2 linked regions of the Homo sapiens genome follow. The protein of the gene in region 1 purifies or fractionates together with the protein of each later gene. This does not show direct contact. Each region holds a gene or a part of one and is shown on either strand. Other genes may lie near its edges.

Region 1 (15,442 bases):
GTAGATTTTACAGAAAAATGTTCTAAAACCTTAAATGTAATAAAATTAAAGAAGGAATCAAAATTTGAAAATGAGGCAACTCAAGGAAAAAACTCTTTGAAGAAACATGTACACTAATTTTTGAAATATGCATAATTTTCATGAGAATAACAATTATCTTGTGTACTATATTCAAAATCAGAAATTAAAAATTTAAAGGTAAAAATATTACTTTTTACCTTTTTGGACATTTGTCCCAGTGCTAAGCTTTCTGGACATTTGTACCAGTGCTATTCCCCATCACTTTAGAGCCAAAATAATTTTTCTACTTTCTTTGCTTTCTAGACTTTTCTCCAACAATGTTACAGAGTTAGAATTAGCATTAACTAGAGGTAAAATTATCCAAAGCTCCCTTAGCAATAGAAACACATTTATTCACTCAGTCAACAAATATTCGACAAGTATCTTCTATATGTCAGATAATCTGCTTGAGCTAGGTATAAAATAATAAGTCAAAACACGGCTCTATCTTCAAAGAATGTACAGTATAGAAGGGAAGACAAACAATAATGCCAAATGTACAAGGGTTTCTCAGGAAAATACCCTCTGAATCTCCCCATTTTTTTATTTCCTAAAGGGACAGAAATCATTAATAAACTTATGACTACTGATCTTATGGGAGATTACAAAAGTCACAATATACTGTTGTATATTTTGCACTGAGGGAGAGTAAAAAACACATTCCATACTTTAGAATCCTTCTGCTTTATCTTCCACCGTGCATGTATGTGTAACAAGAGGAAGTACATGGCAGGCACTATCCTAAGCACTTTTACATATAGTCATGCATCACTTAATGTCAGGGATACATTCTAAGAAATTCATCTTTAAGTGATTTCACTGTTGCCTGAACATCATACAGCGTAGTCACACAAATCTTGATGGTAAAGCTTACTACACACCTAGGCTATATGGCAGCCTATTGCTCCGAGGCTACAAATCTGCCCAGCATATTACTATGCAGAATATTTAGGCAATTTTAAACCCAGTGGTATTTGTGTCTAAACCTAAAAAAGGTACAGTAAAAATATGGTATAAAAAATGGGGCTGGGCGCGGTGGCTCACACTTGTAATCCCAGCACTTTAGAAGGCCAAGGCAGGAGGATCACCTGAGGTCAGGAGTTTAAGACCACCCTGGCCAACATGGTGAAACCCCCGTCTCTACTAAAAATACAAAATTAGCCAGGCGTGGTGGTGGGCACCTGTAATCCCAGCTACTCAGGAGGCTGAGGCAGGATCACTTGAGCCCGGGAGGCTGAGGTTGCAGTGAGCCAAGATCGCGCCATTGCACTCCAGCCTAGGCGACAAGAGTGAAACTCTGTCTCAATAAAGAAAAAAAAAAGATAAAAAATGGTACACCTGTATAGGGCACTTATCATGAATAGTGCTCTCAGGATTGGGAGTTGCTCTGAGTGAGTCAGTGAGTGAGTGGTAAATGAAAGTGAAAGCCTAGGACACTGCTGTAGTACACTATTGTAGACTTTATAAACACCATAAACATAGGCTACACATTTTTTAAAACCTTCCTTTCTACAATAATAACTTTTTTTTCTCTGGGACAGAGTCTTGCTCTGTTGCCCATGATATAGTGCAATGGCACGATCACAGCTCACCACAATCTCATCCTCCTGGGCTCAAGCAATCCTCCTACCTCAGCCTCCCAAGGAGTTTTTTGTTGTTGTTGTTGTTGTTGTTTTTGTAGAGAAGGGGTCTTGCTTTGTCACCCAGGCTGGTCTCAAACTCCTGGTCTCAAGTGATCCTCCTGCTGTGTCCTCTCAAAGTGCTAGAATTACAGGCATGAGCCACCTCACCCAGTCTGTTCTATGATAACTTAACCTTAGCTTACTGTAATGTTTTTACTTTATAAGCTTTATAATTTTTTTAACTTTTTTACTCTTTTGTAATAACAGTTTAAAAACACACATTTTCTTTATATCTTCATAAGCTTTTTTTTTTCTTACTTTTTAAATAAAAACTAAGACACACACAGCCAAGGCCTACATAGGGTCAGGATCATCAATATCATTGTCTCCCACCTCCATATCTTGTCCTACTGTAGGGTCTTCAGGGGCAATAACACACAGGGAGCTGTCATCTCCTATGATCACAATGCCTTCTTCTGGAATACCTCCTGAAGGACCTACCTGAGACTGTTTTACAGTTAACTGATTTTTTTTTAATAAATAGAAGGAGTCCACTCTAAAATTAAACAATTCAAAGTATAGTATAGTAAATATATAAACCAGTAATATAGTCATTTATTATCATTATCAAGTGTTAGATACCGTACATAACTGTATGCTATACTTTTTATGACTGACAGTGCATTTGGTTTGTTTACTCCAGCATCACTCCAAACACATGAGTAATGTGTCGTGCTATGACTTTAGGATGGCTACAAAATCACTAGGCAATAGGAATTTTTCAGCTCCATTATAATCTTATGGGACCATTGTCGTATATGAGGTCCATTGATGACAGAAACATCATTATGTGGCACATGACTGTACTTAAGTTAACTTGACTCATTTAATCCTCACAAATGTCCTATGAGATTGGTACCTTTATTATCCTCACTTTACGGATAAGGCAACCAAGGCAGAGATTCCAACCCTTTCATTCTCATTCCAAAGTCTGTGCTCTAACCACTACACTATCCTGCCTTTCGCTATATGACACAAAATGCATCCCTAATCAAAGTAGAGAGAGGTTTTGTTTAAATCAAACAAGACTGCTTAACTTTGAGAGGTTCAATGGGCATTATGAGTGGATTTCCTTACTGGCCACAACCTCTACCTCAGCAGCCCAGGAAAAGATTGTAGGACAGAATCAGCATAATCACTAGTTGCCAGAGTAGTGGTCTGGAAATTCTCTGCAGATCCCCAGCTGTAGGCTGTACGCAGCCCTCTCTACTGTCTGCCCCCAACATAACTGTGCAACATCATCACAAGCTCAGAACCACTTGACAAATGAAGTCCCCACTTTTTGGAAGAGGAACAAAAACACTGGAGGTATTGATGCAATATAATTGGACTTTGTATTAAACAAGGAATAAAAAACAAGTGAAACCCTGTGAGAAATCTCTATTTCCTAGGGTGCTGAAATTTTCTATTTTATTACAATCAAAAGAATTGAACTATTTATACAGTCTGGTGCAGAGAGGGAAGTTACCCCTGATTTGGGGCATATGGTGAACAACAAAACAATTACAAGGCAAGTATAGCACTACAGGAACATCCATAAAGGACACCTTATTCACATTTAAGAAGTCCAAGAAAGATTTCCACAAAGAAAAATAGTATCTAACCTGATACCTGAAGAATGTATAAGAACTTGTAAAGTTGCACATGTGATATAGCAAAATGAGGAATCAAGAAACACATATGATCATGCCTGCAATCCCAGCACTTTGGGAGGCTGAGGCAGGCAGATTCCCTGACCTCAGGGCGACCAGCCTGGGCAATATGGTAAAACCCTGTCTCTTATACTAAAATGCCAAAAATTAGCCGGGAGTAGCTGCTATGAGCCTGTAGTCCCAGCTACTCAGGAGGCTGAGGCAGGAGAATTCCTTGAATCAGGGAGGTGGAAGCTGCAGGGAGACAAGATCAAGCCACTGCACTCTAGCCTGGGTGACAGAGCAAGACTCTGTCTCGAAAGAAGGGAATGGAAGGGAAGGGGAGGGGAGTTGGGGAGGGGAGGGGAAGGGAGGGCAGGGCAGGAGAGGGCAAGGCAGGGCAGGGCAGGGCAGGGCAGGGCAAGAAAGAAAGAAAAGCATGAGAGGACCCAGGAATAAGAGATAGCATGGTAAAAACTAAAGTAAGTTTGAGAAGGCCTAAAGCACAGAATGGAAGTGAAAAGAGGTCAAGACATGGGTGAGAGAGGTAAACTTGTGAGATGAGAAGAAGCCATAATGTGAAAACTATAACCATGCTAGGAGTATGATTTTATTGTAAGGGTACTAGGAAGTCAGGAAACAGTTTTAAGTATGAGAAAAATAATCAAATTTGTGTTAAAACAGAAACCAAAAAACAACAACCTGGCTCTGCTATAAAGAACAGATGGAGGGTAAAGAGAGATAGGAAGCAAGAGAAAGCAGTTAGAAAGTTAAAAAACCTACCCCAGTAATCTAATCAGGAGTGGACAAAATTTTTCTATAAAGAGCCAGATGGCATTTTAGGCTTTATGGACTATATCAGGGGTCTCCAACCCCCAGGGCATGGAATAGTGGTACGTGGCCTGTTAGGAACCAGGTTGCACAGCAGGAGGTGAGGGGCAGGTGAGAGAACAAGGGAAGCTTTATCTGTATTTACATCCACTCCCCACTGCTCAAATTACCACCTCAGCCCTACCTCCTGTCAGATGAGTGGCGGCATTAGATTCTCACAGGAGTGCAAACCCCACTGTGACCTGCACATTCGAGGGATCTAGGTTGCATGCTCCTTATGAGAATCTAATGCCTGATGATCTGTCACTGTCTCCCATCACCCCCAGATGGGACTGTCTAGTTGCAGAAAAACAAGCTAAGGGCTCCCACTGATTCTACCTTATGGTGAGCTGTACAATTATTTCATTATATATTATAAGGTAATAATAGAAATAAAGTGTACAATAATTGTAATGTGCTTGAATCATTGTAAAACCATCCCCCCACACCAGTCCATGGAAAAACTGTCTTCCATGAAACTGGTCTCTGGTGCCAAAAAGGTTGGGGACTGCTGGACTATACAATCTCTGTCACAACCACTCAGCCACTGTAGCACTAAAGCAGACACAGACATTGAATATAAATATGTAAAGCACTAAACCTGGCTGTGTTTCAGCTAGATTTGCACATAAGCAATAGTTTGCCAACCAGATGAGTAGACAATAGGTTAGACCAGGTAATTAGAAGCGTGAACTGGGAAGAGTACTCATATTCAAAAGATATTTAGCAGGTATCATCCAGAAGTATTGGTAACTGAAAATGTGAGATTAGTGTGAAGGTGAAGAACTCTAAACCCTGACTTCAGTACTTTAGCAATTCACTGAATAGGAAAGGTAAGAAAATGAAAAGTATTGGGTCATGGGAGGAAGGTCACATTCAGCTCACATTCCACTGGCCAAGCAAATCCCCTGACTAAGGTGGAAGTCTGTGGGGCCAGGAAGAATTCTTCTCTTATAGGAAGGCACTGCAACTCACATGACAGTAAGTGCAGCCATATAATCTTCTTACAGGTAAGAATAATTACAGGTAGTGAATAATTAGGAAAATTACTATAATATACAGTTCAGTCCATCTGACTCTAAATTTCTTGCCTAAATGCTAAGGAGATTTGTTGGTTTTGGCACCGGTATAAATAAAGCATATTGGTATAGCCAATATACGTAAATACTCACATACCTCTAAATCTACCTATCGCATATGGAAATATATGTATATCCTATTACTCAGGTAACATCATTTAATGTATTATTTGGTTTTGGAGGAAAAATGTTGTAAAATTAAATCTTTATTTGTACTAAAATAATACTCATATTACAAGGTTAATAAAAAATAACATTCCAGTCTCACCCTTCCTTACCCTTGATTCATACATCCTAGCTATTTCTTCTCTTTACTTCTAAAACAAAAAATGTTTACAGTGCTTTCATCAATTTCAGATGTTATCCATTCATTTCTTACTGTTGAAGATGAGGAAATAACTCTTATTTAGCCTTTCTATGCCTCAATTCCTTCACCTATAAAAAAGGGAAGATAATAGCACATACCTCATAAGATTATCATGAGGATCAATTGTGTGTGTTGCTTAAAACAATGCAAGACATACTACACACTATTAATGATTACAGCATCACCAAACACGCACGCCCTCCTGAACTATAGTTTTTTCCAATAGAGTTTTATCACAAATTTTTGTTACATCAATGTTTAGAGGGTTATAATTACATAAATATTGTTCACAGCTAAGCCAAGTAGTGAACTATTATATTTTCCTCTCACAAATTTTTTGCTTGTCCTAGAACTGTAATTGCCTCATTTTTTAATGCACTTAATCTTCTATTACTAATTCATCTTTAAACTCCCTCTGTTACATATCTGCTTCCAATATGCTCGAACACAACATATATCAGTTTAGTTTTCCCCCTTCAAGAGTTCTATATCAATTTTCTGTCCTCATACTCCATTCTGGACTGGTTGTTTTCTAGGTCAGATATAAGGTATCATCCTGAGACATTTGCAATTATCCTGGAATTCCTTTTACTTTGCTGTGTTGGCTGTCCTGTTTTCTGACACTATGAATTCCTTTCTGGCTTATTCATGGATTATAATACAGTACATGTCCTCCCACAGCTTTCTGAGAGAGGGAGTATGGGATATGAATTTTGAGACTCTAAGTTCAAAATATATCAGTGGTGCCTTTGCACTTGATTAATAATTAGGCTGGGCATAAAACTTCAGGTTGAAAATCACTTTCTCTCATGTGCCATTGTCCCTCACCTTCCACTGAACATTCCATTATCTTTTAGCTTCCAAATGAGCTAGAAGTTGCTGCTGAGGGGCAGTATCTCTGACTCCCAATTTTTGTCTACATGATCCGTTTTGATCCTTCACTCTACTCCATGCTTAACCCAAGCTCTAATTCTAAATGTTCTGAAATTTCATGATAATGTTTCTCAGTGCTGATGACTCAAAAGATCCTTTTATTTTCCTTTTTCTTTTGAGACAGAATCTCGCTTGTCGCCCAGGCTAGAGTGCAGTGTTGTATTCACGGCTCTCTGCACCTTTGAACTCCCAGGCTCAAAGGACCCTTTCACCTCAGCCGTCTGAGTAGCTGCGACTACAGGCACACACCACTACACCCAGCTGATTTTTAAATTTTATTGTAGAGATAGGATCTCACTTTGTTGCCCAGGCTGGTCTCAAACTCCTGAGTTCAAGGGATCCTCTTGCCTCAGCCTCCCAAAGTGCTAGGATTACAGGCGTGAGCCACCATGCCCAACGAAAAGATCCTTTTAATCTGGAAATACATACACAGTACTGCATTTCTGGGGCAATTTTTAAAATTATTTATTAATTTCTTCTTCTCCATGTATTTCCTTTTTCTGGAACATCTATTAGTTGGATATTACATTTCCTGCATGAATTGCACTCACTTTGCTATTTTCTTTTTTGTTGTTCATTTTTATACTACTTTTCTGGGAAATGGTCTCAAATTTATCTTCTAACTTTTCCACTGAATTTATTTTAATTTTTATTTATTTATGTGTTTATTTTTGAGACAGGGTCCCACTCTGTCACCCAGGCTGGAGTGCAGTGGTGCAATCACGGCTCACTGCAGCTTCGACTTCCCAGGCTCAGATGATCTCCCACCTCGGCCTCCTAAGTAGCTGGGACTACAGGCATGCAACGCCAAGCCCAGCTAATTTTTTTGTATTTTTTGTAAAGACAGGGTATCACCATGTTGCCCAAGCTAATCTTGAACTCCTGGGCTCAAGCGATCAGCCTCGGCCTCCCAAAGTGCTGAGATTACAGGCGTGAGCCACTGTACCCAGCCACCCCTGAATTTATTCTGATTATTTTTATTTTCTAGTCTTCTCACTTTCTAATCTATAGTCTATTTTTTAAGCATTCTTAATTTTTAAATTGACAGATAATATTCTATGTATTCAGTGTGTACAACATATTCTGAAGTGGATATACACTGTAGAATGACTAAATTAATATATACATTACCTCACATGGTTATTATTTGTGTGGTGAGAACACTTAATATCCACTCTCTTAGCATTTTTCAAGAATACAACATACTAACTATAGTCACCAATGTTATACAATAGATGTCCTGAAGATATCTCAGTCTTTTTATAGTATCCAGTTCTTTAAAGGTAGTAATTATATCTTTAAAAACACTGTTTTTATGATTCCTGCATTGCTTCTTTTCTCTTTTCTTCTTTTTCTTTAGGTCTTAAATATTTGATGATCTTTAATTATCCATTTATAATTAACAGTCACTAACACACTGAATGCAAGCTCAGTGTGCAATGCGTGAAGCATTTTGAATAGTGGACCTCACTATAGAGGCGTGGCCAGTCATTTCACTTTTCAGTATCCTTAGGTTCTCTTTGGTTACTCAGTTTTGACGAAAAGAAATTCCAGTCTTCTGTTTGCAGATTATAAATCTGACGACCAGACTTTCACTTAATCCCCATTATTAGTGCAGCATCTCACCAGACTCTGATTTGTTTCTGGTCTTCCAGAATCCAGAACTTCTCTGGCTCAGCCTCTCCAGAGAGCAAGCTTCAACCCGGTCTTCTGTCAGAGGAAGATAAGGGTAACTATGTGGCTACATGGAATAAGGAAGATCTGGGGGTAGATCTATTATCCCTTATACACATGTTCAAACAATCCTGTCTTTAGTTCTTTCTCACTCCTACAGATTATACCTGATACATCTAATTCCTGAGTCTTTCAGAAGTTAATTACAGGGGTTTTACTTGTTTCCTATTGGCTTTCCCTATTGCAGGCACTTAAGAGTTTTACTTCTTTCATTTTCCAACCTTCGAAATTGTATTGATAGCTCTCATTTACTGTAGTCTCTTCTTCCATTCTTTAAGTCCTTGCAGGCTGCCATGATTTTTTCTTATCTGTTGTACTTTTAAAGAGGTTTCAGGAGAGATTAGTGCATGTATTTGAACTACCATTTTTTGGGTTTTGTTTTGTTTTTGTTTTTTTTTCAGGACAGGGTCTTGCTCTGTCACCCCGTCTAGAGTGCAGTGGCACAATCATAGCACACCACAGCCTCAAACTCCTGGGCTCAGGCGATCCCCCCCAACCAGCTTCCCCAGTATCTGGGACTACAGGCACATGCCCACCACACCCAGCTAATTTTTTTATCTTTTTGTAGAGCTATGTTGCCCAGGCTGGTCCCAAACTCCCGGCCTCGAGCAAAAACCTCGGCTTCCCAGAGTGCTGGGATTATAGGCGTGAGCGACCACGCATGGCCTCAAACTGTCATCTTTAATGAGGAGTGTCAGTGTCATCTATCATATGGCCACCATCCTGCTTAAATAAAACATTATAAATACAGCTGAAGTAGTCTCTGTGCTTCTGATTAGCCTTTTTTATTCTCTAAATACAAAACCATGCTATCTTCAAACAGTGATTTTTGTTCACTCTAATATTAATTTTTAAAAATAAAACACACAAAAAAGAAAAGATAATATTAATTAATATTAATTAGAATGTTTTGCTCATCTTAGCAAATGTATCTCAAACAGTATGCTAAAGAGTAGTAAAAGGGGCCAGGCGTGGTGGCTCACGCCTGTAATCCCAGCACTTTGGGAGGCCAAGGCAGGCAGATCATGAAATCAAGAGATCGAGCCATCCTGGCCAACATGGTGAAACCCCACCTCTACCAAAAATACAAAAATTAGCTGGGCATGGTGGCGTGCGCCTGTAATCCCAGCCACTCGGGAGGCTGAGGCAGGAGAATCACTTGAACCTGGGAGGCGGAAGTTGCTGTGAGCACTGCACTCCAGCCTGGGCAACAGAGCAGGACTCTGTCTCCAAAAAAAAAAAAAAAAGATTAGTAAAAGGGGAGATTCTTATTTTAGGCTTATTTTGGAGGACTAAGTTACACTCCATCACTGAAAATAATATTAGACATTAGATTTAATATATTCTCTCAATTAAAAAATTTTAGGGCTGGGTGTGGTGGCTTACATCTGTAATCCCAGCACTTTGGGAGGCCAGGGAGGGAGAACTGCTTAAGCCCAGGAGTTCAAGACCAGCCTAGGCAATGTGGTGAGACCTTGTCTCTACAAAATATAAAATATTTTTTAAAAATTTAGAAAACAATTTTAATTGTGAATATGTATACATTTACATTTTTGGTGTACTATATTATGATTTTTCCTACTTTTACTATTGGTATAATTTTTAAAGTAGCTTTATTGAGGTATAATTTACATACTATTAAACTAAACTATTTTTACAGATTTAGTAAATAATTTAGATTTTTAGTAAATTTGTAGAGTTGTGCAATCATTATCACACTCAAGTTTTAGAACATTTCCATCACCTCAAAAAGTTCCTTTCTGCCTGTTTGCAGGAAAGCCCTGTTCCCCTCAATCCATAGGCAACTTTTGATCTGTTTTCTATTTCTATAGATTTCTAGAAATTTCATATAAACAATCACACAATATGTTGTACTTAGCATGACATTTTTTATGTTCATCCATGATGCAGTATGTATTAACAGTTTTTATTGCTGAATTGTATTTCATTGTATGACTATAACACATTTGTTTATACCAATTGATTCACCAGTTGATGGACACGTGGGTTTTTCCTACTTCTGGCTATTAAGAATAGTGCTGCTATGAACATTTGCATGTATTTATGTTTTCACTTCTCTTGGATAGAAAATGTTAAATATAGTAGATACCCTAAATATAGGTAGATACCCTAGGAGTGGAAATGTTGGGTCATGTGAGAAGTACATATTTAACATTTTTAAAACCACCAAACTATTTTCCATTTTCCATGCCCAACAGCAGTGTAGAAGAGTAGAAGAGTTGTAGTTCCTCCATCACCTTGCCAACATTTGGTATTGTCAATCTTTTTAATTTTGTTCTAACAGATGTATTATAAATGTAGTAATGTAAATCTTCCAACACTATTCTTTTTAAATTTGTTTTGAATATTCTACATCCTTTGTATTACATACATATATTTGAGAATTAGCTCATCAATCTCTACCAAAAACAAACTTCTGCTGGAATTTTGAAGGGATTACATTGAATATATAGATACATTTGGAGAAAACTGACATTTTAACAATATTGAATCTTCCAGATCATGAACATGAAATGCTATTCCATTTATTTAGACCTTCTTTAATTTCTCTAAGCAATGTTTTATAGTTTTCCATGTATGAATCTTACACTTTTTATGTCATTCCTAAGTGTTTTATTCTTTGTTGCTATTATAAAATTGTTTTCTTAATTTTATTTTTGAATTATTCATTGTTGGTATATAGAAATACAACTGATTTTTGTGTACTGATCTTGTATTTGAAGACCTTGCCACATTCATTTGTTACTGTAATTTTTTTTTTTTTTTTTTTTTTTTTTTTTTTTGAGACGGAGTCTCGTTCTGTCGTCCAGGCTGGAGTGCAGTGGCGCGATCTTGGCTCACTGCAAGCTCTGCCTCCCCGGGTTCACGCCATTCTCCTGTCTCAGCCTCCCCAGTAGCCTGCAACCACGCCTGGCTAATTTTTGTATTTTTAGTAGAGATGGGGTTTCACCATGTTAGCCAGGATGGTCTCGATCTCCTGACCTCGTGATCCACCCGCCTTGGCCTCCCAAAGTGCTGGGATTACAGGCGTGAGCCACTGCGCCCAGCCTACTGTCATTTTTTATATATATTCTTAGGATTTTCTAAATATGGGATTATGCTGTCATGAGTAAAGGCAGTTTTCATATTCCTTTCCATCTCAATGCCTTTCATCTCTTTTCCTTTGCTTATTACATTGGCTGGGACTCCCAGTACAATGTTAAATAAAAATAGTAAGAGCAGATATCCCTGCTTTGTTCCTGATTTTAGGGGAAAACATTCAGTCTTAACCACTAAGTGTGAAGTTTGTTGCAGGCTTTTCCTAGACAACCTTTACTATGTTGAAGAAGTTCCCCTAAGAACCTAGTTTATTATTAATAGGCATTGAATTTTGTTAAATGCTCTTTCTGTATTTACTGAGAAGATCATATGATTGTCCTTTATCCTATTAATATGGCATATTACATTACTTTGTTTTCAAATTAATGCATTCCCAGGATAACTCCCACTTGGTCATAGTAGATAAGCCATTTTATGTGTTGTAGAATTGGTTTTGTTAATATCTTGTTAAAGATTTTCACACATACATTCATAACGAATGTTCTTATGATGTCTTTGTCTGGTTTAGGTTTCAGGGTAATACTAGTCTCATAGAATGAGCTGAGAAGTATATTTCCTTCTCTATTTTCTGAAAAAGTTTGTGTAGAATTAGTGTATTTGTTCTTGACCTAATTAACTGCTACTCATGCTTCAGATCTCATTTTAATCAATTCCTTAGCAAAAGCTTATCTGACCTTCTTAATTAGGTTCTTCTTTTTTTTTTTTTATTTTTGAGACGGAGTCTCGCTTTTGTTGCCCAGGCTGGAGTGCAATGCATGATCTCAGCTCACTGCAACCTCTGCCTCCCACACTCAAACGATTCTCCTGCCTCAGCCCCCTGAGTAGGTGGGACTACAGGTGCGTGTCACCATGCCCAGCTAATTTTTGTATTTTTAGCAGAGAAGGGGTTTCACCATGTTGCCCAGGCTAGTCTTGAACTCCTGAGCTCATGCAATCTGCCTGCCTCGGCCTCCCTGCTAGGATTACAGGCATCAGCCACCGTGCCCAGCCTTTTTTTTTTTTTTAAAGGCAGGGTCTCTGTCATCTTGACCTCCAGGCTTAAGCAATCCTCTCACCTCAGTCTCCTGAGTAGCTGGGACCACAGGCAGATGCCATCATGGCCAGCTAACTTATTTTTTGTAGAGACAGAGTCTCCCTATGTTGCCCGGGCTAGTGTCAAATCCCTGGCCTCAAACGATCCTCCCACTTTGGCCTCCCAAAGTGCTAGGATTACAGGCATGAGCCACCATGCCCAGCAACTAGGCTCATTTATTTCCCTTATTATAAGTATAGTAGCTTGTAAACAGACCTCTTCTCAGTATTTGCCACTAAGTAATTTGCATTTATTAGAAGGATTCTTTTTATTATTCTCAACCACTTTGTCATAAATTCCATGAAAATAAAAATATTGAATATGGCTGGGCAGAGCGTCTCATGCCTATAATCTCGGCACTTTGAGAGGACAAGGTGGAAGCACTGCTTGAGCTCAGGAATTCGAGACCAGCCTGGACAACATGGCAAGACCTTGTCTCTACAAAAAATTTAAAAATTATCCAAACCTGTTGGTGCATGCCTGTGGTCCCAGTTACTCAGGAGGCTAAGGTGGGAGAATCACTTGAGCCCAGGAGATTGAGGCTGCAGTGAGCTGTGTTCATGCCACTGCACTCCAACTTGGGCAACAGGGCCAGACCCTGTCTCAAAAAAAAAAAAAATGATTGAATGTTTTTACTTACCATTATGTAGGCATAGCTAGTGTCTGCCACATTGTAGGTAAGCAGTCAACAAATATTTGTTAAATAAATACGTAATGGATGCTTTCATTTTATTTTTGGTATTTCTTTCCCTGTTTTACTTTGGTTGATTACATTTTCTTTCTCTAGATTCTTCAATATTAATATGATTCATTGTAAACCTTCCTAGTCAAACTAGACATTTTTTGTTAATATAGACATTGAGAATAATAAGTACTACTCTGGAAATATTCCATAGATTTTATTATAATGTCTATATTTTTATTTCTATCTTTCAAAAACACAGATATGATGTGACTCCTCTACTCAAAAACCATTAAAACCTTTCAATTTTCTACAGAATAGTATCTAAAGTTCTTAGTAAAGCAGTCAAGTAACCTTCAAATAGATTTATGGCCTATCACTCTATCTATGTACCTTATTCTCCAATCATATTGGGCTACTTACTTGCTCTTCCTCTAAACAAGTCTTATACTTCTGTTTGTTAATATTTTTCTCTTGTGCTCAGCACCCAACAAAATGCCTTAAACATTGTAGTTCAATAAATGCTTATTGAAGAGTTCATACCATTTTTCATGACCCAAGTTAAGATTTTTAAAATTTATCTTTCATAATTCTGAATTATACTTTTAAATATATAATTTTAAATTATATAACAGTACTGTGATATGATGTTAATATTTTTATTTTAAAATTTTTTTTGCTTATTTGTTCTTTTATTTTTTGTTTTTATTTTTTGTTTTCAAAAAATTGTATTTGTGTTCATGTATTTTTAAATTTAGCATTAATTTTTTTGTATGCTATACTTTGGTCATTTTTTAAGACTTAAGCATATTAAAAAGATATCTGGGCTTTTCTCCCATCACTATCAGACTGTGAAACCCATGAAGGCAACAATCACATCTATCTTTTTCACTGTATTCTCAGCACCTAGTACAAGAGTGGCACATTAGCTGAGTAATTTTTTTTTCAGCTTTCTACTATCACACTGAAAGCTCAGTAAATGTTTATAGTTATTTTACATTTCATTCTTCCCACCGCCGCTAAATTTAAAAGCATACATTAAGGCGTGGTTAGGTAGATTACCCTATGAGAGAACGAGTAAAAAATATGCATGATGGATAGGGTTCAATTAACTATAGCAACAGACAGAGTTCCTAGTATGAATCAAGATGTTCTAAGAGTAGGAAACAAACACACTTCCTACCCTTAGGCCTATGAACACACATAGGTTAACAAATAACTTTGATATCATGCACTAAAAGGAAGGTATGTATTAAATGACATGGAAAAGAGTGAAGGAAATCAGGCAGGGCGCGGTGGCTCATGCCTCATGCCTATAATCCCAGCACTTTGGGAGGCTGAGGCAGGTGGATCACGAGGTCAGGAGATCGAGACCATCCTGGCTAACATGGTGAAACCCCGTCTCTACTAAAAAAAAAAAGTACAAAAAATTAGCTGGGCATGGTGGCGGGCCCCTGTAGTCCCAACTACTCGGGAGGCTGAGGCAGGAGAATGGTGTGAACCCAGGAGGCGGAGCTGGCAGTGAGCCGAGATCGCTCCACTGCACTCCAACCAGGGTGACAGAGCGAGACTCTGTCTCAAAAAAAAAAAAAAAAAGGGTGAAGGAAATCTTTAAATTGGCTAGGGGAAGAAGGTTAGATAACAAGGCTAGAGATCACAAAACAAGATCAAACTCCACTTCTATGCTGTTTCCATTACACCATACTTACTATCAGTGATGTTTAGCAGCTCACAAAAAAATAACAGGACAGGCTTTAGAGAATCACAAAATAAAATCTGGAGACTTATTCATCCTAACCCCATCTCCCACTAATATAAATAATCAAGGACTATACCAAATTGTGAAAAGTTAGTCGGCTACTTGTTGTTCAAGTAGCTTTCTATTGATTGGCCTATTTAACAGAACAGATAATATTAAGTTGTATTCACCCAGTTTTTTTAAGTATTAATGAAGGGTCTGCTGCAATACTTTTTGAAAGGTAATGCAAAAACAAGAATCAGCTGGCATTTATCAGCACTTTGCAAGGAAGTGAGGCCCTGAATCCATAAGATTTAAGTAAGTATTAAAGTCGCAGAGAGTTATATTCTTTTGAGGGCCAAGGATGGTTCTTTAGGCTTTTCCACATCTCAAGACTATCCAATTACATTTGGTTACCAAGCAACCATTCCATGATGAATTTGTACCAGCATCCCCAAATGGCTTAACCCCACA
Region 2 (15,442 bases), on another chromosome or scaffold:
GATTCCCAGCACCTGCCCCTGGGGGTGCCCAGCTGAAGGGTGAGGGATGGCAATTCCGACGCTCGGCCAGTACTGGGGGCCCCCACCCCATCCCTGGCACAGGCTTTTGAAAGTCTCATCTGCCACAATCAGGTTCCGCCTGTCTGGCAGTGAGGGCCACAGGCTGCGTTCACACTCCCCAGCACCCTGCCCACTCTGCCCGAGGCCTCACCTTTTGCCACAGCGACTCCCGGGAGGCAAGTGACGAGCAGGCTGCCACAAACCAGCAGTTGCCCACCTGGCCCTGGTGCAGGTCGTGGGAGCTGATGCCATCCACAAAGAGGCGGGGGTCCTCGCAGATGCCCTGCGGAGAAGGCGAGGAGAGAGCGTGAGGGGCGGAGGAGCATGCGGATGCCCCCCATGGCAGGAGACATGACAGACACAGACGTGACAGACACAGACTTGCTGTGTGATCATCAGCATGGTGATTCACCTGCCTCCCACCACAGACTTGGGGCCCCATAGGGCCCATCTGCTCCCCGCTTGCCCCCCACCCCGCGGTCCTGCCTGGGATGCCCTCTCCCCTTCCTGGCCAGAGAGTGCTCTTCCGCTAAAGGTTTGCTGATGAAGAACCTGTGGGAAGACGTCAGAGCGCTGGACCCGGGGCACTGCCTTCCTCCTACCCGCTGCGCCCCTCCCTAACCAGCAAGAGCTCCATTCCCTTCCTTCTCTAGCACCAGCAGCCTGAGTGCCCACCCCCGCCAGCCCACAGGGGTACAGCAGGTTCAAGTGGGGTGGGGGTGCGGGCATGGGACAAACACCCATATCCCAGCTGGGGAGCACAAAGCGAGGGGCCAGTGGGGAGCGGTGGGCCAGGCCCCGCATGGCACTTGCCTCGCATAATCTCATCAGGTCTTCACGCCACCCAAGGAGCGAGGAGTTGTCATTCCATTGTATGGGCGAGGAATGGAGGTTCAGAGATGGACTGTGACTTGTCAAAGGCACACAGCAAGCAAATGCTCAAGTGGAGCAAAAACTCCTTTTTTTCCTTTTTTCTTTCTTTTTTTCTTTAGAGACAGTCTCGCTCTTTTGCCCAGGCTGGAGTGCATGGAATGCAGTAGTGCAACCTCAGCTCACTGCAACCTCCAGCTCCTGGGTTCAAGCAATTCTCCTGCCTCACCTTCCTGAGTAGCTGGGATTACAGGCACCCACCACCACGCCCAGCTAATTTTTATATTTTTAGTAGAGACAGGGTTTCTCCATGTTGGCCAGGCTGGTCTCAAACTCCTGATCTGCTGGCCTCGGCCTCCCAAAGTGCTGGAATTACAGGCATAAGCCACTGCGCCCAGCCTCCATTTTTATTTTCTACAGAGACTGGTGGGCACGGCCCAAGAGGCTGCTCCATGAGACGCAGCCAGGGAATCCGGCCAGGGCAGCCGCTGACCCGGGAATGATCCATGAGCAACTGGCTGCTCTCAGGCTCAGCCCTTCCTAATTTCTGGAAGCCCCTTGCTCTGCCTGCCAAGAGAGAGGCAGCCCAGGGGGGCTCCAGTACCAGGTGCCCTCTGCACCTGACCCTGCCCAAGGAGCTCTGGCCTGGGCTTTCCACCTCTTCTTGCTGTGGGGGTATTTTCCTTAAAAGCCCCCTGAGGCAGTGCTGTGAAAGGGAAAAGCATGGGCTTTGGCTTCAGACTGGAGACTGAATTCCAGCTCCTCAATCGGCAATCTGGCGAGCTCTCTGAGCCTCGGCTTTCTGATTTATATAATAGAAACAACAATTTCTTTATGTTGTTGGATTTTGGGGTTTTTTGTTTTTGTTTTTGTCTTTTTGAGGCATGGTCTCGTCTGTCACCCAAACTGGAGTGCAGTCACAATCACAGCTCACTGCAGCCTCAACCTCCTAGGCTCAAGCGATCCTCTGGCCTAAGCCTCACGAATAGCTGGGACCGTAGGCCCACACACCACACTCAGCTAACTCTTAAATTTTTTGTAGAGATGAGGTCTCACTATGTTGCCCAGGCTGGTCTCAAACTCCTGAGCTCAAGCAATCTTCCCGCCTCAGCCTCCCAAAGTGCTGGGATGACAGGCTTGAGCCAATGTGCATGGCCAATAATTTCTACTTTGCGAGGAGGAATCAGTGTATGTAAAGTATCAAGCCCAGGGCCTGACCCAAAGCGAATGAAAGTCTCCTTCAATTTTCAGGTGCTAGGAAGCTATGCCCAGACCTCTATGGGTGGCTCCAGCACCAAGAGATGCAACCAGGAAGGGTCAGCTCACCCTGTGTTCCCTCAGCTGTAATCATCCCTCCCCAAGGCCTGAGCTGGGGGTGGGGCCTGGCCTGATCCCTAGCCCTGGCCCAGGGAACAGAGCAGGCCCCTCTTCCTCTCCCATCGCCTCACTGAGCTGAGGAAGCCACTGCTCCCCAGTGGCTGTGGGTATGGTGGAGGGTGGGGACAGGCAAACACTGAGACATGCCTTTCATGTACCAGGCATCCTGCTGACACCACAATCCATCCTCACCAAGGCACTGAGAAGTGGGCAATATCCCCTTTTACAGATAAGGAAACTGAGGCCCAGGGAGGTGTAATACCATGTCCCCGCCACACAGCATGGGCAGATGGCAGCAGCCCTCTGCCTGCCTCCACTCCAGCAGGCGCTCCTGAGCTAGTTCCATCCCAAGAGCTTCTGCGGTCCTACCACAGGCGGCCAGCAGAGGGTGGCAGAGGCAGGAAGACCGAATTTGAATGTCTGCTCCCTGCTGTGCAACTTTGGGCCTCACCTGTGCAGAGGAGATAAATGGTCATCCCAGCAGGGCTGTGTAGGGACTCTACAGATCGTGGAGCAGAGCAGTTGCAAGGGAGAATGGGGAAGAGGGCTCCTAGTTCCCACCAAGATGGGGACCCTGCTGTCCCCTCTGCCCGGAAGAACCAGAGTTTTAGAGGGTCAGAGAAAGGGCTAGAATTCCCCCAAGGGCATGAGCAGCTCCTGAGACCTGGCCCCTCCTTCCAGTTGGCACTACAGGGTGCACCACGGCCAACCTGCACGGCGGCTTCTGCAGAGCACAGGTCTAGGAAACCCAGTGAGGCCGCCTGGTCTCATCCATCCCCAACGGCACCCCGTCAGGAAGCACAGGCAGGAAGAAGGGACTTTCCCTCTCCTCCCCGCTGCCCTCCTGTCTTCCCTCCCAGCCCTGGACCACACCCCACATCCAGCCCATCCTCTGACCCAGAGGGAGCTATGACTTAGCATCTGTTCCCTGAGGCCAGGAGGGCAGGCAAGACCGGGAAGGGAGAGGGGCTTCCATATACGGAGGACCCCAGCCACATCATGCCATGGAAAGAGAAACAGCTACCACCTGGCATCACCAGGGTTTACAGCAGGAAGTGACTCAGGTGTCCCTCCACTTCAGATCCTCCCAGCCAGTGTCCTAAGACAGACACACAACTGCCCCATCCCAGAGAGGAGGAGGCTGAGCCCAGGACAGCGCAGTGATGTCCAAGGTGACAAGGCAAGTAAGTGGACGGATCCGATGGGATGCCCTAGGTCTGCTGGGCTCCCAACCAGGGTCTCCCAACACTAAGCACCACAGCTGGGGCAGACCCGAGGTGCAGATCCAACCAGATCTGGGCCCCAGATCAGGGCTCTGGCCCCAGACACTTCTCCAGTCCTTGAGAGACAGACCGAGCTTGGGAGTCACGATTCCCAGATTCCATCACCCTGACTTGCTGTGGCAGAGCAGGAACCTGGGGGCAATCGTGCAGCCTGGGAAGGAGCAGACAGAGCGGAAGGCAGCCAGGCATGTTCCCACTGCCAGGAGAGGCTCAGGGTCACCAGCTCTAACCAACAGAAACCACCTGAGGTTGGTGGCACCTGGAGTCTGCTCTGGAATCCAGGGGCCACCTTGGGGCACCTGTAAAGGAACAATAATAGAAATATCTCACAATGACTGGGCACCTGCTATGTGGCAGGCACTGTGCAAAACAACCCTGTGAGATGGGCACTGTTGGCATCCCCTTTTTACGGATGAGGAAACCAAGGCACAGAAAGGTTAAGTCACTTGCCCAGGGCCACACAAGAAGAGGTGAAATGAGATTCAAATTCAGGCAGTCTGGCTGCAGTCTCCAGGTAGACTAGGTTTTTTGTTTGTTTGTTTGTTTTTGTTTGTTTTTTTTAGATGGGAGTCTTGCCCTGTCGCCCAGGCTGGAATGCAATGGTGCGATCTTGGCTCACTGCAACCTTCGCCTCCTGGGTTCAAACGATTCTCCTGCCTTAGCCTCTAGAGTAGCTGGGACTACAGGCACCTGCCACCAACACCCAGCTAATTTTTCTATTTTTAGTAGAGACAGGGTTTCACTATGTTGGCCAGGCTGGTCTCAGGTGGGCTAGGTTTTATGGGTGACAAAGCCATCCTTCCTTCACCTGTCTCCCTGCACCTGTCCTAACCCAGCTTAGGGGGTGTCTCACTAGATAGCAATGAGACCAAGGGTTTGGGGAAGCCCAGGCCCTCACCTCTGCCACCATGGGGCCAGGCTTCTCAAGCCTAGTGTTTGTCCTTCCACTTTTCCTGGGCCACTGGCTGGACATAGGTCATAGAGTGAGTCAGGGAAGGTCTCTGCCCACAGGCAGGGATCTTGAGAAGGAGCCAGGCCCTGACCCCCCATGTGAGCAGAGCTGTGACAGCAGGAGCCAGAGAGAAAACAGAGGAGGCTGCCTGGAGGCAGTGATGCTGGCAGAGCAGGCATGGAGAGTGCTGGTAAGCAGGGAGGTTCAGGAGGGAAATGGGGACCCGAAGTGTCCTGAGGCAGACACTGCCTCCGAAATGGTCCTCGGGTGCCAGGGGCCCTTTATCTGGTGCCAGCCACCTGTGCTCCCTTCCATCCCTGTCCACACTCTCTAGGTTTCCTTAGGGTCCCCACCACCAGCCTGTGAGCTCCTAAGCAGGGCCCAGGCCTGACTTTGCCCACTTCTAGGCTTAGCAAAGCTTGGCAGGTTCCACTGGGGCTACAGACAGGTCCCTGGGAGGGAGGGGGGACAAAGTGGTGCACAGGATTGGGCTGTACAGGGGCTACCCCTGAGGGCTGGGGGTTGACCATTTCTCCAGGCAACACAGCTCTAGGACAGCATTCTGCACCTGCAGTCACCGCTCCCCTGCTCAGCCCATCCCAGCCTGTTAGACCAACTCTACCTGACAGGCCACAGCCCAGCCCACCTCCCTTCTCCCTTCGTGGCACAACAAGAAATTCAGGTTTCTATTCCTGGTGTACAAGGCAAGGCAAGGCAGCAGACTGGATCCATGGCACCTGGGCTATATCTGCAGAGGCTCCCTCCACATCCGTCCTCCTCCCCCACTCTTTGTCCATCCAGCTTCACCCTAGTCACCACCCTCCTGGAATCTAGGATCACAGAATGAATGAACTAGACAGTGGGAAACAGGTCTGGGAAGGACACGGGACTTCCATCTGGGACTGGAAAGGGAGTTGTAGCCTACAGCCCATCCCCTCTGCAGAAGACTTGCCCTCCCCCAGCCCTACCTCCTTCTCCTCCATGGCAGTCCGCACCCTTCAAGGCCTCTGAAAGCTCTCCCTGACCCCACTGAACCCCATCTCTGAGCACATGCCCAGAAGGGGGTCATTCCTGGGCAGTTCGGCTGGGTGTGCCCCCGCTGCCAGGCCTTGCTGCAAACTGACTGTTCTGTGGCACGAAAAGGCCTTATGTTCAGGGAGCCGAGGAGTAGGGCCATCTCCAGGAAATGGCTTGATGGGCAAGAGTCCCCGGGACTGGGCTGAGGCTGGGGCCCCCGAGACTGCACTAGGGGAATTCTGCAGGTTCCAAAACCAGTGTCTGTTCATTAGTCCCCCTCCCCCACCCCACCTTGTCCCCTGTGCATTCCACCAAAGGACCTCCAGGCTCATACCCAGATGTGGGAGAGACAGCATGCTGGATGAGGGGATGTTGCCCCCACAGGGTGACAGGAGGCCGCCTACCAGGTCCCGGGCCCTGAGCGAGGAGGACGGACACCCTGAGCTCCCAGGCCTGGGGACATTCTCCATTCTCCGTGCATCTCCCCAGCCAGGCCTGTGAGGGGCCAGCGAATGGCCACTGTACTGGAAAGAACAAAAACATAGCGAGCCTGTGGGTGAAGGGTGTGGGCTGAAGGCAGGTGCCCAGGTCGGCACCCAAGAGGACAAGGCCTGGTCCCACCTGCAGAGTCAATAGGAGATGGGATGTCCCAACCAAGGTGGCTCTAGGTCCCCAACAAAAAGTTGCCAAGGAGAAGACGAGCAAGAGAGGGGAACCAGTTTGTCACCTGCCTCCCATGTGTATGACACCACAGATACCTCAAGTCATTTCGGTTTCCAGAAACTGTGACCAGCAAGAATTATCCTTCCCCAATTACAGATGAGGAAACTGAGGCCCAAGCAGGAGTGACTTGTTCAAGGTCACACTTCTAGTAAGGTAGGGCCAAGGCTGCAGCCAAGTTCACTGTGGCTCAAAAACTAGCCTCTGCATTCCATTTGAGAGGCAGCGAGGCTGGGAGGCTGGCTGAGGAGACCCTCTAAGAACAGAGCAGCCACTATAAGGACCAACTCAGAGAAGGAGCTGGAGGGGATGGACGGGCATGCAGCACGACTTCTCATTTGTAAACAGGCGGTCACAGGTAAGACTCCATCGAAACAAGGCTGCCTGAGGCCAAAGTTCCCTCTCACTGGCAAGCAGCTGGGCGTTAATGATAACCCACTGGGCTGGGCCCGCCAAGCAAGCTGAGCCAAGCCTGCTTGACTTCCTGCTCCACAAACCTCCCATCCCGTTAGTGGGGCAGGGGCTGCCTGTCCTGCAGGCTTGTGGCTAGCCAGTAGGCAGTGCCTACACACATGGTTTAGGAAATCCAGGCAGTGCCGTGGACCATCCACCCCAGCCTGGTCTGAGTCCCCATCACTGCTGCCCCTTGGGCCCCACTCACACAGCTCTCTGAACACCAGCCACCATACGCTCTCTGTCACCTGCCCCCACATCCAGGGCAGGGCAGCTCTGCGTGTCTAGAAAGGGCAGGGCACCAAGTGAGCCAGCGAGGAAGGCAACGAGAGGAGGAGGTGTGGCATGGCTCCTGAACCCACAAGGAAAGGGGCTCAGAAAGGGCAGCTGACTCCCCTGGGTCACGCAGCAGGAGAGTACCAAGCGGGCCAACCTGGCGTCTCCTCCTCTCACCGCAGCAAGCCCAGCCTGCTCCCGCCAGGCCTCACCAGCCTCTTTTCGGAGCCACGGACCTAAAATGTCTGGGCAATGGCCAGAGGGCAGGAGGGAGTCAGGACGGGGGTAGCCAGGGGATGGAGTGGGAGGAGGGCGAAGAGCTCGAGTGCCCAGCCCTCCTCCCCACAGCCAAGGCCTCACAAAGGCCCTTTGAGGCCAAGGCCTCCCTCCCCACCTACTTGACAAAGGAAGAGAGGAAGGCGTGGGAGAGGGGGCCCAAGAGGCAGAACTCTTGTGGCCAGGCCAGGAGGCTCCTGGGCCTTCCAGAGAGTCAGTACAGGGCCAGAGATTCTGTTACAGCTCTTGGGACTGAGGTCAAGGGCACCAGGGGCCCTTTATCTGGTGCCAGGAAGGTGGGGTGCAGGGAGGCAGGACTCTTCAACTACCCCTGCTAGCAGCTCATGGGTGATCTAGGACACGCACCTTCCTCTCTTGGCCTCAGTTTCTCTGCCACTCAAGAGTCCCAGTCCAAGGACATCTACGGGGTATTTTCAGTCAGAAGGGACTCGAGATCATAGCCTGGGAGGGAAACTAGAAAACTACATTTCATTTTCCCAAAAAGCCCAGGGGATCAGGAGGAACTTTGGAAAATGCAAATCTGACCCTGTTACAGGCTGCTGAAAGCCTTTGCCTTCGCGGGACCTCACTACTCACAGAGCAAGGTCGAGCATCTTGGCCCCAGATCTGCCACCCCAGGCATGGCTCTCCACAGGCCCACATGAGCCTGAGGGGCTCCCACCTGTGAGTTTCTATTCCCTCTGCCTTTTCCCACCTGGCCCTTTGGGCAAAAACCTCATCACCCTTCACCTCCAAGACACCTCCTCTGATTACTGGGCTGCGGGAGTCACAGCCTCCTCCCAGCCTGGAGCATCCTTGAGACAGCAGCATGGTCTCCCGCATTGTGAGGGGACGACCCTCAGTGTCACTAGCACAGCCCTGGAGGCCAGGGAGAGTAACCTCCTGCAGCCTCCCCTCCACCCAGGCCACCAGGGACCCCATTCTGCAGGACCCACAGACAAGCAGCGAACCCCTCCCCAGCCCACCCTCACACCCAGGAATCGGGGTTCAAGGGGATGAAATCACACCAGGAGGCCAAACATTTCTGTGTAACACACTCTAGCCTCAGGGACCAAAAGGAGTGGTCGGAGAGACGCCACCTGTTCATCATTATCAGTATCCATGGTCCCGTACTGGCTGCCAGGCTGTGAGTGGAATTTTGCATGCATTACCTCTTTTAATTCTCACAACCACTCTATGAGGTAGGTACTACTATCTTTTTACAATTATTATTATTATTGATTAATCATCATAATAAATACTTTTCATTTCTACCACAAATGACTATTTCAAAATCATGATGATAACAATCAGGAAAGTAAATTCCTTACATTTGGATGTCAATCTACATTTTATCAAAAATGGTCATATCCACATCACCCCATTTTTATTCCAAAAATGACCCTCAGCGGGGCTGAGGTTACTGCCCCATTTTTCCTGTGAGGAAGTGGAGGCCCTGAGAGGGTGAAGGCCTGGCTGGGCCTCAACCAATCCAGTGGTGGCCACAGGATTACAGCCCATTCTCCAAGCTCCCCATCCGGATCAAATCCCACCGTTTCAGCACCCTCACTTTCTCAGCAGCCTGGGGCCAGGGATGCCTCCTCCCACCACCCCGATGTCCCTGCAGGCCCAGCCTTGTGGGTGGGCCTGGGCCCGCTCACCCAGCTCCAGCTGGGACCAGACACTGACCTTGGGTCGCTTCCACCTGACGGCGGGCCCCGGCGTGCCCTTATAGTAGAGTGAGTCGTCAGTGGCGGGGAAGAGGGGGTCCTCGAAGAGCACCTTCCTGCGCCGGCAGTCCCGCCTCAGGGCTGAGTAGTTCTGGTCCTCATAGGGCTTCACACACGAGAACATGGTGGCTGCTGCCCCAGGGAGGGGAGGGGGAACACCTGGACAGGAAGGCAAGAAGACGGTCACTCACAGAGTCCCTGGGTCCCTGATGTGCCCTGTGAAGCGGACATCATCAGCCCCATGGCACAGGCACGGAAGGCTCAGCGAGGCGTGGAGCCTACCCAAGGTCACACAGCTGGTATACAGCAGAGTGGGACAGACACCGACCGGCCTGACTCCATAGACTGGATTCTCTCGTTTCTGAAGCTCAGAGGCGATACCAGGCCCACAGGCCACACAGAGCTCAGGCCTGGCCCACACCGCACCTACCTCCCTGCCTTCCTTTGTTTGACCAGCCTTCCCTACACCTCCTCAGACGGAATCAGACCAGTGGCCAGCCCTGCCAGCTCCCTGGCTGGTGTGTCTCCCACAGGAAAGCAGCGTGTGCCTCTGGGTTTCCCTCCCCACCTCTAGAGAGTGGCACATTTCTGCCTGGTGTGGGAAAACCTTGCCCCAGGTACCCCTCTCAGCATCATTCATTCATTCTCTCCGGTCCTCCCCGCACCATGCTGCCTTCCTCACAGCATCTTGGGAATAGGCGTCTCTAATTCTGTAGAGAGCAGGCCCATGGCTCCTTAACCCTCCCTCCATTCCCCAGGGGCCCAGGTGGGCCCAGCCAAGCACCCTGAACTTTGCACCAATGTGCTGACCAAGTGCAAGGGACACAGACTGGACCAACATGGTCAGGGAAGGCCTCTGGGAGTGGAGGGCAGGGCAGGGCAAGGAACAGCGGCTGGCAGGGCCTGCATATCAGGTGCGCTGAGAGATGCTCGGACGGCCAAGCACCTGAGTGACCACCCCATTTATGATCCACGCCCCCATCCCTCAAACTCCATCTGGGCTGCGGTGCAGCTCCACAGTCCCCGATCTACTCTTCCTGGGGCCTGCCCAGGGTAACAGTGCAATCCTTTTGGGGTAAAGGCCACAATTTCCAGCCCAGCCCTGAGGGAAACCAAGGCAAGGCAGGCTGGCTGTGGGAGTGATATCTGAGATCAAGACTGGTGTGAGTGCCAGCCCCAGTGGTACCACCCTCCTGCTGGGTGACGTTGAACTGGTCATGTGAACTCTCTGAGCCCGTTTTCTCATCTCAGTGATGGGAATTACACAGTGCTGCTGCACCTCCTGGAAGGAGTCAACCCATTAACTGAAGGCTGAGGAGCCCGCCAAGCATGCCAGTGGGAAGAGGAGTGAGGGGGAAGGGGCCAAGACACCCAGTGGTCCCAAGAGACGCCCCATTTCCCTGGCCAGAGGTGCATGTGTACTGCCTGCCAACAGTGCCGGTGGGCACACGGCTGCCAGCTTTCACAAAATACAACTGCGGCTCAGTGAGGTGAGGTGACCTGCCCAAGCTCCCCTGGAAACCTGGTGTCCGGACGGGAACCCAGATCCTCTGACTTTAGTGCCACCGCCTTGGCTGTATGACCCTGCCGCTCTCACTTAGGGTCTCCCCACACACCGTGGCTGAGCTGGAGCCTCACTGGGGCCTCATGTGGAGGGAAAGAGGGAAGGGAGAGACAGGAAAGGAAAGAGGCGAGCGCGGGCAGTGAGCATGGGCACAGATGGACAGCAGGGAGGGCAAGGGGGCCATTGTCCCCCCACCTGCCAAGGGAGCTGAGAGCAGTTGTCCCCTGCTCTGCACCCAAGCCACTTCACCTTCTGCCCCCATATCCATACTGGGCCTGCTGGAGTGCTGCTGTGTGACCTCAGGCCAACCACTTAACTTCTCTGGCTGCCCCTCTGCCCACGGAGGCCAGCAGCCCTGCCCCCTCCCACCCATTCTCCCTGCCTTGGAGGTCTGAGGGAGAGAGGGGAGGAGCTCACAGAGCCAGCTTCCGGGCTTCAGGCTTCTGGCAGAGTCACCGAGGAGCAGCATTAGCACCACGGGTTTCCGGCAGGGTCAGTTCAGGAAGCAATTTAGGCTACAAGAATTAGATCAGAGAAGCTGAAAGCAGGAGCCCAGAAATCAGCTCTTGCAATTCCAGTGTTTCTGAGCCTAGAGGGTCCAGAGAGGGAGAGGAAGCTCGCCCAGGGCACACAGCCAGGCTGGTGGAGAAAGAGGGTCTGGCTGCTCTCCAGGCTAGGAAGGGGCCAACGCTGCTGGGAGGGTCCACTCCTGGGGAGGATGGAAGGGAGGTGGAGGCCATAAAGGGAGAGCTCGGCTGGGCCAGGGGCTGCACAGGGCCAGGCCTGGCTGGCTGAGGGCCTGATACCGTTGCCCCATCCCTCCAGCCTCACCTGCCTGCCAGGCTAACCTTGGCCTACTTATGTGAGGTTCTTCTGGCCCCGGCCCTTGCACAGACTGCCCCTCTGCACCCTCCATCTGCCCCAAGGTCACCTCCCACTGTATCTATGGGGCCAACACCCCGACAGGGTCAGGTCTCCTCTGCTAGCCCCAGGCAGAGCACTGAAGGCCACGGATAGACCAGGAGGCAGGCAAGCTGCTCCACCCAGGCCTTTTCTTTCTGAGCCTGAGCTTAGGCCCGTAGCACTTCCTGTCTCCCTGGTGTTTTTAGCTGTTTGGGCCGAGCAGGACCCCTGGGTGGGGTTCAGGACCACCTGAGCTTCCCAGCTGCCCTGTGTGCCTGCCCTCTTCCCTCCTCCTGCCAGTCTCATCCCCACCATTCTCCACCCTGGGCTGAAGCTCTGGGGCTCGGAGCTCCTCGCAGCTCCCACAAGACTGTTCCCTCAGGGCCTCTGCACACACTGTTCCTCTGCCATCCTGGTGCCCCTGGGACAGCACCTGTTAACACTGTATCCCATCTGCACATGACTTGTCTGCCTCCCCAGCCTACCCTGTGCCCCTCCAGGGGAGGGGCTGTGTCCAGCTCCTCTCTCTATCCCAGGGTCCAATGTGGGGCTCCAGGGATTGAGGAGTTATGTTGCATGAACCAACAAAGGTGAGTGCAGGAGGAATTCCTTCAAGAAGAGAAAAAGGCTCAGAGAGTGGCGGAGGCTCCCAAGGGGAATCAGCTTTCCACATCACAGACGCCAGCACTCAGGTCTGCTGCAGCAGGGCCCACCCCTTCACCCTGGGGAAGGCCTGGCTCTCCTCTCCTCCCCTCCCTGACAGCTGGGTGCCAGCCGGTGCCCACATCCCCACTATCCAGACTGTAGCCCTAGCACATTCTGCTGCGGCCCAGCCCTCCTCCAGCTCCTGAGCCTCGACCCAGGCCCCCGCTGTCCTGAGCAGGCCGCATTACCTCACTGGTCTGCATGGTCCTTGTCTGGAAGAGACAATGTGCCAGGGCCTCTGGGCCACTGTGAGGAACAAACAAGACCCCACCATGCAGAGCAGCACTCTGTATCCTTTCATGCTCTGTGCCCTGAGGACTGACAGTCTCAGGCAGTCGACATCTGGGCTTCACCCACGATGTGTCCAGACCCCCGCCAGGTATGGGGGGGCTACCACAACTTGGGGTTCCTGTCGGAGTTGGTCTAGTGTAGCCAACAGACATAAGGCCAAATGAAGTATGTGTCATTCAGAGGTTCCAGCAAGAGGAAAGCAGGGAAGCCTCCACACAGGCCTGGCCACAGAGGCAGGAGAGAAAGGCCATTCCAGGCAAAGGGAACAGTTCACGCAAAGGCTCAGAGGTATGAAAGACATCTTTATTACCACCTCAGGGCACCCCCTAAAATGAGCACAGTGCTAACCTGGGCCCTGCTTTGAGAAGCCTAGGATACGGAGTCTGGAGGCTTGAGATCTGCATAAGAGGCTGCAGACTCTGGACAAGCTCATTGATGTTCCCATCTACAAAATGGCTTAGCTGGCCATCATCTCCAGGGAAGGCTCACTGGTATCAGCCCTCCTCCTCCTGTGGCCAGGGCAGCGGTGAGTCAGACCCAGCCTGCACAGTGAGGCCTCTGTGGACCAAGAGTGGAAGTTCTGAGTTGGGTCAGAATGAGGGGGCTGGGGTGCTCACCAGGGAGCTTCAGGAACCCAGTCTTCTGGCAGGTCAGTCAGATCTGAGTTTGCATCCCAACTGCATCATTTAGCTGCTGTGTGTCCTTGGGCAAGGTGGGAACCCCTCTGAGCTGCTGTCAATCAGCAAGCCTCCTCTGAGCCCTACTGGGTTCCAGCCTCTAAGGTGACAGATGACAGAAAGAAAGTGGCATCTGTTCCTAGGCCTGCCTTAGGGAAGCTCAGTCTATCCTCACCTGGGACATGGTTGGTACTCCTCTTCCAGGAGGCTGTGTGGCCTAGTCTGCTGTTCCCTGGACCTGCTGGAGGTAGCGGGGACAGCCTGGCTGTGTACAGGATGGAATAAGGCCTCATCTTCCAGCGGGCTGATACCTGTGAGCCTTCCCTGGACCACCTAAGCCATTTTGTAGATGGGAACACCAAGGAATTTGTCCTTGAGGCAGAAGCCAAGGCCAGGCTCCAGAGCTGTGTGGAGGGGCAAGTCACCTACCTCTCTGAGCCTCTGAGAGATGGGGTCATGGAGCCAGCATCAGCCCCAGGGGAATAATAAGAACGAAGGACACAGCTGAGCCCAAGCCCAGCAGCAAGAGGGCCTCAAAGCCACCACGGGCCTCAAAGCCACAAAGGACCCAGAATAAGCAGAGCCATTTGAAGAGAACAAGCTGGAGGACTTACACTACTAAGTAACAAGGCTGATCACAAAGCTCACTGGGCACTGTCTTATAGAACAGTGGAACAGAATAGAAAGTTCAGAAATAAGCCACAAGTATAAGGACACCTGATATATGACAAAAGAGATGCCACAATGCACTGGGGAAAGGATTTATCTTTTCAATAAATGGTGCTGGGTCAACTGGCTATCCATAAGGAAAAACAGTTGTCTTACCCCTACCTCAAACCGTATACAAAACTTATTCCAGATAGATTTCAAATCTAACTGAAAGGTAAAACAATAATGCTTTTAGAAAAGAACATGAGAAAAAAAGTAAACTCAAATGGTCTAAAAATGGAAGAAAAAGTGCCCAACTTCACTAACCATTAAGGAAATGCAAATTAAAACCACAATGAGATACTGCTATACCCCCACTAGAATGACTAAAGTGAAACACACACACAGACACACACACACACACACACACACACACACAATCTCAAGTAGAGCTCTTATGCATTAGTGGTAGGAGGACAAATTGGTATAATCACTTTGCGAAACCATTTGACTATATCTAGAAAACCTGAGGAAATAATATAATCATGTGTTCATATAATCTAGTAATTCTAAGAATATGTCCAATAGAAATGCATGGACATATTCACCAAAAACCATGTACAAGAATGTCTATTGCAATAGTATTTGTTAGAGCTGAAAATGAGAAACAAGCTAAATGTTCATCAATGAAAGAACAGATCAATAAGTTCTTGTATATTCATATAATAGAATAGTAAACAATAACGAAAATGAACAAATTGTTGTTGCACACAACCCTATGGATGGATCTTACAAGCATATTAAGCAAAAGAAGCAATATTACATGATTCTATTTAAATAAAATAGAAAAGCAGAGCCAGCATTACCCCATTACCAAAGCCAGATAAAGACACTACAAGAAAAGAAAATTATAGGCCAATATGCCTTATGAACACAGATGCAAAACCTTCAACAAAATACTAGCAAACAAGGTGGGTGTGATGGTGCATGCCTGTAGTCCCAGCTACTCAAGAGCCTCAGGAAGATAGCAAGACCCAATCTCTAGGGAAAAATAATAATAATAATAATAATAAGGCAAATAATTCAAAAGCACATTAAAAGGATCATTCACCATGATCAAGTAAGATTTATATGAAGGATGCAAGGATGGTTCAACATATGCAAATCAATAAATGTGATACACGATACTAACAGAATAAAGGGCAAAAAACATATGATCATCTCACTGATTTAAAAAAACACATTTGACAAGATTCAGCATCCTTTCATGATAAAAATTCTGAACAAAATAGGTATAGAAGGAATACACAGAAATCAGTAGCATTTTTATATACTAACAACACACTACTCAAAAGAGTCAAGAAAACAATCCCATTTACAATAGTTACCATGGAAAAAAGAAATGCTTAGGAATAAATATTACCAAGAAGGTAAAAGACTTGTACACTGAAAACTATGAAACACTGATGAAAGAAATTGAAGACACAAATAAATGGAAAGATACAGATATGTACATATACATATCTGTATATGTAGATAAGAATTAGTATTGTTAAAATGTCCATTCTACCCAAAACAATCTACAGATTCAATCCAATCCCCTATCAAAATTCCAATGACATTTTTCACAGAAATAAAAA

The links.
Region 2: the proteins of PHTF1 (region 1) and CAPN5 purify together in Homo sapiens (affinity purification with mass spectrometry; 2 studies listed by BioGRID and IntAct, with this or other methods). This does not show direct contact.

Annotation. Positions count from the first base shown.
Region 1 is NC_000001.11:113,741,258-113,756,699, forward strand, and holds part of PHTF1 (protein PHTF1), read right to left. Parts: intron 8,333-15,442; exon of another isoform or gene 8,249-8,332; intron 1-8,248.
Region 2 is NC_000011.10:77,078,583-77,094,024, reverse strand, and holds part of CAPN5 (calpain-5), read right to left. Parts: intron 9,174-15,442; coding exon of another isoform or gene 9,139-9,173; coding exon 8,974-9,138; intron 6,084-8,973; coding exon of another isoform or gene 5,964-6,083; intron 344-5,963; coding exon 212-343; intron 1-211.